3 separate regions of the Homo sapiens genome follow, and all the other regions are linked to region 2. Evidence: fine-mapped expression QTL. A gene starts in region 2. Each other region holds a variant in brackets. All regions are shown on one strand. Distances are between the middles of the regions.

Region 1 (4,202 bases), 29 kb before region 2:
GTGCATGACAAGCCTGGTGCCTGGCCCAACACACCGTAGGTGCTCATTCCATATTGATTACTTGTGAAGGCACCCATGGGCCACTGCACTGGAAATTGTCTTTCCTGTGGTCAGGCCTAGGTCCCCAACAGACCCTCTTCCAGGACATGGCTGCTGGGGGCCCCAGGGCTGCTCCTCCCAGTGGAGAATTCCTCTTATGTTATTCACACAGAGATTTCCCCAGGAAGTCTGAGCCCCTCTTTGTGTATCTTCCCAGCTGTTATCTGGGCCTCCTGAAGGCCTGCCTGGCTTTCTGGTTTATGTTAGGGTTGTTTATATGGGGTCTTATCTCTCCCAGGAGCAGGGGCCAGCCTGGGGAGCAGCAAGATTGTGGGCTTTGAGTCAGAGCAACCTGGGTTTGAGTCCCCAGCTCCGCCACGCACTAGCTCTGGGACCCTTGGCAAGTGACACCACCTCTTGGAACCTCGGTTTCCTCCTCTGTAAAGTGGGGATGGTAGTACCTCCAGCACAGGGTGATCATGAAGATTATGTGGGAAAATATCTGCGCGGTGCCTGGCATGGGTTAAATGATGAGTTACAGACAGCTCCTTTCCCCTTTTCCAAACCAGGAGGTTCTGCAGCAGCAGGATCCTAGAGGCTCAGACCCAGGGCAAGGGAAGACCATCACAGCTCCTCAAGGCACCACCTCGGCAGTAGGCAGGGGAGGCTGCACAGCCGAGCTCCACGCTGCTGGCAGCTCCCAGGACTCCATGGCCTAGAGGAGGCTGGGGACCTCAGGAACCCTCCGCAGAATGAAGGAAGGGTGGGGAAGAAAGACACAGAGATGAGGCTGCGGCCCCTATAGGAGCTTGGGTGAGTGTGGAAGATAAGAGCACAGGCTCTGGAACAGACACGTGCGTCCTTCAGGGAGCTGTGTGACCCCCTGTGAGTGACTCAACCTCTCTGAGCCTCAGTTCCCTGTCTATGCAAATGAAGGATGATGGCATACCATATCTCCTGGGGTTGCTGCGAGGCGTTGATAATACATGGAAAGTGCTTAGCACAGTCTGGCCAAGAATTTTCTACTTATTTTTAGGTTGTATTCTCAGGACCCACTGACTTCTGGCCAAACTCTTCAATTACTCATAAAACAGTATTAAATTTTTTTTAAAAAGCTTATTTCTCCAGCACCTTCCATGAGCCCTGCAGGCAACGTGCTTAGCGCCTACCTCTCATTATCCCATTTGATCGTAGCAGTCCTCTGTGGGGTTGGCCCTGTCACCATCCCCATTTTATAAATGAGAAGTCCGGTGACCTGTTTGAGCCCATACAGCTGTTGACGGCTGGAGCCTGGAGATAGTCGTGGGCGGGGTTAGTGTCTCACCAGGTATCAGCTGGACGCAGCAAACCTCAAACAGAATCCATGGGGAGAATCTGTGAATGAGCTTGTCCAACCTGCGGCCCGTGGGCCGCATGTGACCTGGGATGGCTTTGAATGCGGCTCACCACAGATTCATAAACTTTCTTAAAACATTCTGAGATTTATGCATGCACCTTTGTTTTTTAGCTGATCGGCTATCGTTGGTGTATTTTATGTGTGACCCAAGACAATATTTCTTACATTGTGGCCCAGGGAAGTCAAAAGATGGGACGCTGCTGCCGAGTGTAAACAGAAGATCTGGAGTGGGGTGGGGACACCTGTGGACTCAAGACAGCCTGGGTGGCGAGTGGTGTGTGGGGGCTGGCACTAGAAGCCATGGGACCGCGTGTGTTTGTTCAGCCTGTCTCAGCTGAACTAATGTAAACACCCAGACTGCTTGTTGGCCCTCTGGGGGACCAAGACAAACTAGGGAACAGTGAGCCGTGCCTCCCGGTGCCTGGTAGGGAGTGGCGAGAATGAGGAGCCAGGTCTCAGGAGAGGCTGAGGAGAGTTGGACAGGGATGGAGCCTGGCTTTCCTGCCCAGTTCACAGAGGGGAGGGCACAGCTGCTGGCTTGGAGGGCTCCCAGGAAGGCCAGGAGCAGAAAGTCTGAGAAGCAGATTGGGGGCAGCAGAGGGAGTCTGGCCCTTGGTGCCGGGGGTGCCCTGGTGGACAGAGGTGGGGGCAGCATGGAGCCGGCATTTATGGAGGCCCTAGTATGTACCAGGCCATTTAGACACGAGGTCTTATCATGTCTCTAGAAAAGCCCTG[C/T]GTAGTCCACTTTATGATTATGATTATGATTATGATTATGATTATTATTATTTTGAGACGGAGTCTCGCTCTGTCTCCCAGGCTGGAAAGCAGTGATGCGATCTCGGCTCACTGCAACCTCCACTTCCCGGGTTCAAGCGATTGTCCCACCTCAGCCTCCCAAGTAGCTGGGATTATAGACGCACACCACCACGCCTGGCTACTTTTTTGTATTTTAGTGGAGACGGGGTTTCACCATGTTGCCCAAGCTGGTCTCGAACTCCTAAGCTCAGGCAATCCACCCACCTTGGCTTCCCAAAGTGCTTGGATTACGAGCTTGAGCCACCGTGCCTGGCCTCACTTTATTATTTTGACTTAGCTGATGAGAAAACGGAGCCCGGGAGATTGTACAGACCCAGCTCCACTGAAAACCCACAGAATTTGGCTTCCTGGGAGGGTGAGTTTACGGAAGCATTTTCGGATAGTATTCCTTCGCATCTGCCTCTGCTGACGTCACATTTCCCATGCTGACTTTCTTCTGACCCTCGCTCAGCGTCTCCCCCGACAGAAGTGCGGCCTCTGGGGAGCTGTAGCTCTTGCTGCAAATCCCCTCCCCCGTCCGCTTTTTGGCACACTGCCTGGGGGCCTGGCCAGGCTGAAGTGACTGTCAGGTCGGGTTAGCTCCTTGGAAGGCTGGTGTGACCAACTCAGGGGTGTCGCCTGCCTCTCACCCAGGGAGGAGGATTTTGCCACCTCTGCTTGGATAGGCTTGTGAAGTGGGCCTCAGGAAGGCTCACTGGTTCTAAATCTTCAAAAAATGGGATTTTAGAAGTTGCTAAGGCCTGAAATATCACCCCACCCATTTTACAGATAGAGAAACTGAAGCCCAGAGCGGAGAAATGTCTGCCCCAAAGACAGTGAGAGGCTGAGGCACAAGGGAGGGGAGGTCTCCAGGGAGGACACCCCTAGGCCAGGCTGACCTTTGTTAAGGGAGTGGGACAGGGTCAGGAAAGGGCAGGGATGAAGGAAATAAGTTCCCCAACTGCGTCATGACCTGAAACCCAATTTCACAGCTGCTCCCACTCTGCTGCCCTCCCCAAGCTGTGCCCTGGAAATGTCCTTGGGCCCTCAGGAACGCTGATCAGTTCCTGCACATGCGCCAGCAGGGTACTTGTTTCATTGGGTTTGGGTCTCTGCGAGTCCACACGAGGGCCTCCTGCTCCCCACTTGCCACGCCAGGTCTTGCCCACTGCTCTCCCCCACCGTTTCCCTCACTCTTGTTCATCTCCGAGTCCAACAGCTATCACTTGAGTTGTGCAGAGCTGGGAAGAATCGTTTAACCGTCACAGCAGCCAGCGAGGGGACCTCGTCCATGCCGTCTGATACCTTCAAGGTGCACCTTGGAGGGGCAGGCCCTGCTTTGCATGTGTTTTGTCCCCACTTCGAGAAAGAGATCGCGGTGGCTCTGATTTAAGTTCAAGAACATTGGGGTCACACCCCGAGCCTGGATTTGAACCAGGAGACAGACACTGGCACCCCACACCTTCGGCCACACCTGCTAAAGCCAGGGACCTACAGAAGTCACATGACCTGTCTGAGCCTGCACAGCTCTTGACTGCCCTGACCCACTCGTGCGTCTCCAGAGGATCTGTTTGGATGCAAGGTGGTTAGGACCCCACCTTGAGTTGGGGAGCAGGGGCTCAGGAGAGGCCGAAGAGAACTGGGCAGGAATGGAACCGGGCTTTCCTGCCTAGCTCACAGAGGGGAGGGTGTGGCTGCCAGCCTGGAGGGGTCCCAAGAAGGCCAGGAACACAAAGTCTGAGAAGCGGGTGGGGAGCAGTAGAGGGGCTCCAGCCAGCCTGGGCCCATGACTCCATCCCGGTCAGGGGACCAAGATTGCTCAATCCCCAGAGCTGCAGATGCGTCACCAGCTCAGCGTCGCCGCGGGCTGGACTGGCCTTGTGACAAGCAAACCCTTTTCCCCATCTGAGGCCTGCGAGCTGGCCTTCCCCTCTGTCTGTTCATTTTGGGAGACCCTCCCAACAGCAGCAGG
Region 2 (4,000 bases):
TCTTGTTGTGTCGTCCACGCTGGAGTGCAGTGGTGCAATCACAGCTCACTGTAGCCGCCACCTCCTGGCTTCAAGCGATTCTCCCACCTAAGCCTCCCAAGTAGCTGGGACTACAGGCGCATACCACCACGTCCTGCTAATTAAAAATATATAATATATAAATATATATATATATATTTTCTTTTTGTAGAGATGGGGTCCGTGTTGCCCAGGCTGGCCTAGAATTAGACTCAAGTGATCTCCTGCCTCAGCCTCCCAAAGTGCTGGGATTACAGGTGTGAACCACTGAACCCAGCCAGATTTCTGTGGTTTGTTTGTTTGAGATGGAGTCTCACTCTGTCACCCAGGCTAGAGTACAGTGGCACAATCTCAGCTCACTGCAACCTCGACCTCCTGGGTTCAAGCGATTCTTCTGCCTCAGCCTCCTGAGTAGCTAGGATTACAGATGCATGCCACCAGGCCCAGCTGATTTTTTGTATTTTTAGTAGAGATGGGGTTTCATCATGTTGGCCAGGCTGGTCTTGAACTCCTGACCTCAAGTGATCTACCCAACTTGGCCTCCCAAAGTGTTGGGATTACAGGCGCGAGCGAGCCATGGTGCCTGGCCTCAGCCAGATTTCATTTTAAAGGCTCATCCTGGCTGCTGAGGGGGCTGTCAGAGGGCAGGAGTGGAAGCCAGGAGACCATCTGGAGCCATTGCCCTCACTGTCCCTGTGACGTCAGGCCCCTCACCCCTCTAAACCTGTTTATTCACACATATGTGTGACTGTGAGAATCAAATTTGGAATGAGCAGAAATGCACTTTGCAAAGCTGAAAAGTACGCATAAATGCAGGGATTCCCGCCTTGCTAGAAGCGGAGAGTCCTTTGGAAATCTGCTGGGTTAGACCTCTCTGGGGTTCTTGGTTGGGACAGTGCTGGGCCTGAGTCCCTAACTGAACACCTCATATCCGAGAGAGCCCCCTTTCCCTGCCTAGGGTTATAGGAGAGGGCTCAGGGGCTGGGGAGGGGGGCACCTGGCTGAGGCTCCGAGTCTTGAGGGGGAAGATGGGAAAGAAGGGTCCCCTTCCTGGCTTCTGACTCCCCCTGGAGCAATGGTTCTCTTGTGTTGCAGGGAGGGCGACACCTTTGAGCACGGGGGTGACCACCGGACCACCCTGCAGCCATCCAAATGCACACACACAGCTCCTTTCATCCCGTGTCAGGGAGTTCTCTGAAATTTTCTGAAACTCATTCACGAACTCTGGCTTAAAGGCCTCTGAGCTAGAAAGGGGAACTGAAAGGGGACACCTACCTTTTTACCCCACCTTTTTTGTCTGGTCTTTCTAGCATTAACCCCCTAGACACACCTAAGGGCTGATGCCGGGGGGAACCTGTCTTGATTGCTCTGGGCCACATCGAGGGCACCTTCCTGATACTTTTGTTATCTGCCACTGGGGACCCGGTTGTTGAAGGGGGACTTAAGATTTTCTCGAAGGAGGGGTCACTGTGAGGGCCTTTCCTGCCTGCTAGGGGCTTCAGTTTGGGGGCCCCCACTCCCGACCTCCGGGGAAGGGAGGGGTCCCCATCTCCCCCGGGCCTCTCGGGTCTTGGGGTCTCCCCGGGAGGCCGGAGGTTGGGAACCGGGCGCCGGCGAACCGATCAGGCCCCGCCCGCGAAGGTGGTGCAACGCCTGGCCCGGCCCATCCCATCCCGGCCACCCGGGCAGCGGGACCAGGCGTCTGGGGCACAGCATGCGGGGCGTGTGGCCGCCCCCGGTGTCCGCCCTGCTGTCGGCGCTGGGGGTGAGGCGGGCGCGGCCTGGAGGGCGGGGGCGGGAGGCGGGCGGGACCCCTCCCCGCGCGGGCCGCTCCGTGGGCCGGTCTCGGTCTCGGGTGTCCAGGCCGGGGCGGGGCGCGGCGGCGGCGGCGCCAGGGTCGGGGCCGCTTCCCCATTCGGGCGCGAGAGCCATGGAGGCGCTGAGGGAGTCCGTGCTGCATTTGGCCTTGCAGATGTCGACGTACAAGCGGGCCACGCTGGACGAGGAGGACCTGGTGGACTCGCTCTCCGAGGGCGACGCATACCCCAACGGCCTGCAGGTAGGCGCCCTCCGCTCCCTCCCGAGGTCCAGGCGCCCCGGGCCCGGGCATGCGCGCTGCCGCTGCCGCGCCCCCCGCCCCTACCTACCCCGCCTCTTCCCCTCCCTTCCCCTCCCTCGTCCCGGCATCCGGGAGGGGCCGCGCCTCCCCGCAGCTGGAGCTCCGCGCTGAGAAGCCTTCCGGAGCCCACCAGTCTCCCCTCACCTGCCCCCGCCATCCCTAGAGCCTCCCGGCCACCTGCTTCTGGGGCCACAGCCCAGGTGGCAGAGTTGAAAGCACCCCCGAGACCCGAACTGGTCCAGTTCCCTTTCCACAGAAGGCACAGTTTGTGCATGTCCCGGGACTTGCCCAGGCCCTTTACCGGCAGAGTCTACGGCTGTTTCTGTTTTAGCGTGGAAAGCCCTGCATCCCTGGAACCCACTCCCCCAGTCCGGGGCAAACTGGGAAAGTTGGTCACCTTATCCGGGAGGCAGTACCACCCTCTTCCTCTTGCCCTCCCAATACCTGAGTTTCCTGGGGCCAGAAACCTGTTCTCTGCCCCCTCTCCCTGCCCCTTTTCCAGCCTACTAAGGAAGTCCAATTCCTCCCCTCCCCAGGGTCTCCGCCCGTGGGCATCCCATCTGCCCACTCCTGGGGAGGGCCCCACCCCCGTCCCTGCCTTGTAACAGGACATTGAGCAAGGCTGCTTTCTGCCCTCCCGTCCCTGGGGGGCTGCACTGGGACAGTTGTGGCCAAGACCTCAGTGCTGGAGGGGTTTGGAGCCAGCCAGGTGCGTGGGAAGGTGCTGGAAACGCTGCGGACACCCTAGGAGACCCAGTGATCTGGCTCTTGAGAAGCCAGTGTAGAAAGAGGAGCTGGGGCACCCCAATTCTCGGAGGACTTCTGCCAGGTAGACCAAGGGAAGTATTTGGGAGAATCTTGGGGCCACTTGGTGAACTGGCACACAACTCTTCCCAAAGGCGAGCTTAGGATGAATGGACGCTTAGTTGCCAGGCCCACTCCACTCAGATACGCCTCTTAGAAGCGGGAATAATCCTCCCAGCGCAGGGAGACACCATTGATGGAGTTCCTCCTCCAGGGTCACATAGGCCCAGGGGACCCAAACTCACAGTCCCAAGGGCTCTACCCACTGGGATGTGTGGTACCCCTGCTTAACCTTCAGGAACACCCCTGAGACCTGTAGGGATTACTGTCCCCACTTACAGATGTGGAAACTGAGGCTCTGAGAGGGGCAACCACTGGCCTTCGGTCACCGAGCTAAAAATCCGAGAGCGACACGTCAAACCCTGTCTGTCTCAAACCTCTTCCCAGTGGACTCTTCTTAAGAGGCTGAAGCCAGCAGGAAATTAGATTTCTGGGGCAGGTGCTTTTCCCTTCTCAAATCAAAACAGAATCTAATCAGCAATGTTTTTCAGTCTCATCTTCCACAGAAGGGTCTAAATATATCAACACAAAAGCATTTCAGAATTCACAGCAAAGTAATAATGCCATGTTGCTGTTATCCTCACAGCAGCCTGTTTGGGGTATAACCTTTTTCAGATGAAATAGCACATTTCTCTGGGGAGGGCCCCCGGCCAAGCAGGAGGAGCCCCGTCTCTGAAGCCAGCGACCCGGGTTTGAGTTCTTACTCCACTCACGACCTTGGGCTAGTGGCTTAATCTCTTTCAGTGGTGATGGCCTCACTGTGAAATGGATGTTAGAGAAAGTGGATGTCATACATATTATATGCAGCCTGCTAGGATTATTGTTTTATGACCCATGAAGTAAGGGCTGGCGTGGCCACATTATTGATGATAAAGGTGAGGGACAAAGAGAGGTTAGAGACATTCCTGGGGTCACGTCGCTGTTGTCTATGGTTGGAGTTAGTGTCCTGTCCCCAAATGGATACATTTTCCACTTTCCTTGCAGGAAAAGGCAAAGAGG
Region 3 (4,173 bases), 51 kb before region 2:
CGGCTTTTAAACAAATCCAGCACTCACTTCTTTGCAGTGTGGCCAAGTTGTCCTTGGCCCCTGGGTTCCTAATGCGGCGCGTTTGCAGGGCGTGTGTGTGTGTGTGTGTGTGTGTGTGTGTGTGTGTGTGTATCTGTGTGTGTCTGTGTGTCTGTGTGATGTGTTTCCTGTTGTCCTCACTGAATCTCCCTGATGGTCACCAGCTCCCCACCCACGTCTCTAACCCCTTGGCAGGGAGTCAGTGCTGTTCTTAAGGGCCTCGGATGGACCGTCTCCCCCTGTTTTCTCCCAGTGCAAGCCGTGGGCCGAGGGTTCTGAGGAGGCTTTTTATGTCTCCTGCCTCCGGTTGTACTCAAACCACCCTGCAGCAGGCACAGAGAGGTGAAGGAGGTTGCCCAGGGTCACAGAGCAAGATAGTACCAGAACAGGCACAAACCTCCTGGACTTTTGGAGGGGTAACCTGGCAGACAGTTGGGGGAAGGAGACCCAACCCATCATCCCCCATCTGCAGCTGTGGCACCTTGAGAATGTTCCTTCACTTTCCAAGCTGGGGCTGAGTTGAGGCTACCGCTGAGGGTTGGGAATGCTCTTTACTATACAGCAGTTGAGTTGAGAACAGGGCCCAGGGTTTTGGTTTGAATCCTGATGTACTACCAGCTTGCTGTGTGACCTTGGGTCAGCCATTCCCCGGCTCTGTGCCCCCTTTCCTACAAAGTGGGGCAGATTTGCTCCACTTCTCCAGATATTGTGAGGGTACAATGTATGTAGAAACACTGTGGGAACTATTAAGAATGTGAGGGAGTCCGGGGGCAGTGGCTCACGCTTGTAGTCCCAGCATTTTGCGGGGGCGAGGCGAGAGGATCACTTGAGGCCGGGAGTTCAAGATCAGCCAGGGCAACATAGTGAGACCCTATCTTAAAAAAAAAAAAGGTAGGGAGAAGCGTTACTGTTTGAAGATAGGAGACTAACCACATGCCCCCACGTCACTCTGGTGCCTCTCAGCCACTCCAGATGGGGCTCCCAGAGCACAGTGCGTACTTCACCCTGGGCAGCCTGTGCCCCTGCTGGTGACTGGGCTACTGAGGCCTCCTTACATTGCTACACTCTTTTGGTAAACAAGGATGTTGTTACCTTTTGTTAAAGAATAAATACATTGTTTTCCCTGCAGAGTTGGGGAGGCCAGGGGAAGAACAGGATTTGAGGCATGAGAGGGCTACAAGGTGGGCTTGGCAGAATGTTCTGGGCGTTAGCCCAGAAAACCAGCTTGGCCAAGTCCACACTTTCATGTCTACGGTGAGAGAGGAACCATGAGCAAATGTTTACAATTTTTTGTGCTTCTGCTCAATTTTTTTCTCTCCAATTGACTGGGTAAGCCTCCTGCCATAGTCAAAGGGCTTCATTCATTTGTTCATTCACTCACTCACCAAACAAGTCTGTCTGGCACAACACGAGGCATGGGGGCCGTGGTCAGTGTGAGTGAGACTGATAGGTCTCTCTCTCCCACAGTCTGATGGACAGGCAGGCAGACAGATACAGAGCAGGAAATTACAAGCGCAATTACTGTTGTCAGGGAGACACGCGGGGGGCTGTGGGATTGGACCGGGAACCTGACCTGAGGATCAGAAAAGGCTCCCTGAGCACATGGCATTAAAATCATAACCTAAAGAGCGAGTGGGACTGGGAAGAGTGTTGGGGGGCGGGGGGTGGAGGGAGCAGAATGTGCAAGAGTACAGACCGCTGTGCCTTCAGGGATGGTTCATCTGGAGGCACGGAGGACTGTGCTTAGGAGGTGGCCC[G/CG]GAGGGTGCACTCAGGGATGGTCATATGAAGGACCTGGGGCTCAATCCTTAGGGCAGTGGGGAGCCACTCAGGAGTTTATTTTTTAAATTTAATTAATTTACTTATTTATTGAGACATAGTCTTGCTCTGTCACCCAGGCTGAGTGCAGTGGTGCAATCTCAGCTCACTGCAGCCTCAGCCTCCCTGGTTCAAGTGATTCTCCTCAGTCTCCCGAGTAGCTGGGATTACAGGCGTGCCACCATGCGACTAACTTCTGTATTTTTTTAGTAGACACCGGGTTTCGCCATGTTGCCCAGGCTGGTCTTGGACTGCTGACCTCAAGTGATCCACCCGCCTCAGCCTCCCACAGTGCTGGGATTACAGGTGTGAGCCACCGCACCCAGCCTACTGAGGAGTTTAGAGTCAGGGGAGTGACACGGTCGGATTTGCATTCTGAGATGGTCACAGGCTGCTTTGTGGTGATTGAGTAGAAGGAGTGAGGCCGAAGGCTGGGAAACCAGTGAGGAGGCACCTGAAGTGGCCCTGGGAGAAAGGTGGTGCTGCAGGCACCATCCAGTCCTCCTCTAGCCCAAACCACGCCCCTGGCATGCTGCCCAGAGCAGTCAGTGAAGACAGAAGGAGGCTGTGGCCCCAGACAGAGGTCCCAGACAGCCCCTTCTCCTGAATGTATTGACCCTTCCCCTCATCCTTTCAGGCAGATAACCAGCCGAGGGCCCTGGTCTCCAGAGCCTTTAATAGAGGAGAAAGAACAAGTTCCCAGATCGCTCTGAAATAAGGTAGAAAATGCTATGTGCCAACCTGGGGATGCAGCTCCAGAGTCATCCTGCCCATAGGTGTGTATCAGGGAAGCCTTCCCAGAAGAGGTGTTAACACTTGGTGGAATGCTTCCTAGACGCCAAGTTTTGGACACATAAAAAATTAGGAGGGGGGTTCACTTGTCCTTGAAGAGTTAATAGTCTGAGGGGCACAGTTTAATGAACAACCAGTGCTGGCGGAACCCCACTGTCAGGGTGGCACTGGAGTCCAGGACCTGGGGCCTGCCCTTTCCTTGGGCCCCTGAGGGCAGAGTGGCTGGGATGCCCCAGGCCTGTCTTGGTGGGCTGACAAGCCTAGGAATGGCTCCCTCCTCCCAACAGGGCCCCTTTGGACTTCCTGGGGGGAGGTGTAAACAGGGGAGCAAGTTTCTAGAGAGCATTCAGGAAATCGGCTAGGTGGGGATCTAACATCAGGGAGGTGGGCCTGGCTTCTGGGCCTTCTAAAGACGCTAGAGCGCTTGTATGAAAAGGGGATTAGGAACCACCAACTTCGAGGCCCCTGTTTGACAAGTGGGAAGACTGAGAGACAAAATGAGCATCTACTATGTGCCTGGCACTTAAATGTAATCTCTGCTCTTCACACCAACCCCAGGGAGGAGGGTGAGCCTTATTTCAGAGTTGTAAAAGCTGAGGCTCAAAGGTCACTTAGGGAATTAGGGACGGGAGCTAGACAGTGGCTCCCCGATTCCTCTAGATTATTATGGCTTCAGTCCCAAGCTGCCACTCAGTTTGGCAGAAACTTGGCCTTCCTGGGAAAGCCCACTGGGACAGGGATAGGACTGTTGAGCCGGTAGCCAGAGGCGTTGAGAGCTCACTGGGGCTGGACACTGGCCAGGCTCAAATGCTGGTTATTTATTGTTCACCTTTGCACCGCACTTGACAGTTAGACCTTTTCTTCCCCATTCACCGACTGTTCTTGGATTCCCACTGCCAATCAGTAGCAGAACTAGAACTTGAACTCAGGCCTTGTGACTCCCAGCCCAGTCCCCCGCCCTGAGATCCCCAGCTCCCCAGCTCAGATAACAGCCCCTCCCTGTCTGGCACCACCTGGTCCCCTGGCCTGGGTCTCCACTAACCCCCACCCCTAACACCTGATGTCCCAGCCTTTCTGACCACATAGCCCTCTAAGCAGGAGGAGCAGCCCCTGGCCCAGAAGCCTCCTCTCCCCATCCTCCTCCCACAGCTCCCTTCCCTCCTTGGCTGGGAAGGCAGGAGGGTGGGCCTGGGGCAGCAGCCAGGCAGAGTTAGGTTACAGCGTAAACACAGTCATGTCAATATTTACCTCTGCCTGGAAGCAGAGCCTCCCACCTCCCTGCCTGACTCCCTCCAGCTGCCCATCCAGCTGCACATGGCCCGCTCCCAGGCTCTGATCTGGTCATTGAAAGCAAGGCCAGGGTGGCTTCCAGCCCAGGCTCTGCCACTAATCCTTGTCCTCCTGAACCACGGTCTTCCTTCGTGGGCCTCAGTCTTCCCATCTGTGAAATGACATGGCTGGAGCAGACTGACTCCAGGGCCGTCTTCAGTAATGACATGCAGGATGACAAGTATAATACTCTCATTC

What was found. PIP is the estimated chance that this variant, and not a neighbour inherited with it, causes the effect. A credible set is the group of variants that fine-mapping cannot tell apart.
Region 1: its variant is the best candidate, but not a certain one, in a credible set for the expression of ECE1 in whole blood (INTERVAL, PIP 0.80).
Region 3: its variant is the best candidate, but not a certain one, in a credible set for the expression of ECE1 in whole blood (INTERVAL, PIP 0.65).

Annotation. Positions count from the first base shown.
Region 1 is chr1:21,317,367-21,321,568 of GRCh38, reverse strand. It overlaps a transcript of ECE1 not described here. Among named protein-coding and RNA genes, the nearest start is that of ECE1-AS1, 26 kb to the right of the region's middle. RefSeq lists a silencer at 1,264-1,503 and enhancers at 1,256-2,073, 2,892-3,709, 3,710-4,202. The variant C/T (reference allele first, on the strand shown) is at 2,171.
Region 2 is chr1:21,288,147-21,292,146 of GRCh38, reverse strand. It overlaps ECE1 (endothelin converting enzyme 1), which reads left to right and starts at 1,684. Exons shown (of 19, transcript NM_001397.3): 1 at 1,684-1,783; 2 at 1,991-2,077. The coding sequence starts at 1,733. RefSeq lists silencers at 1,603-1,782, 1,833-2,002 and an enhancer at 2,679-3,240.
Region 3 is chr1:21,338,566-21,342,738 of GRCh38, reverse strand. It overlaps a transcript of ECE1 not described here. Among named protein-coding and RNA genes, the nearest start is that of ECE1-AS1, 47 kb to the right of the region's middle. RefSeq lists an enhancer at 3,296-4,173. The variant G/CG (reference allele first, on the strand shown) is at 1,797.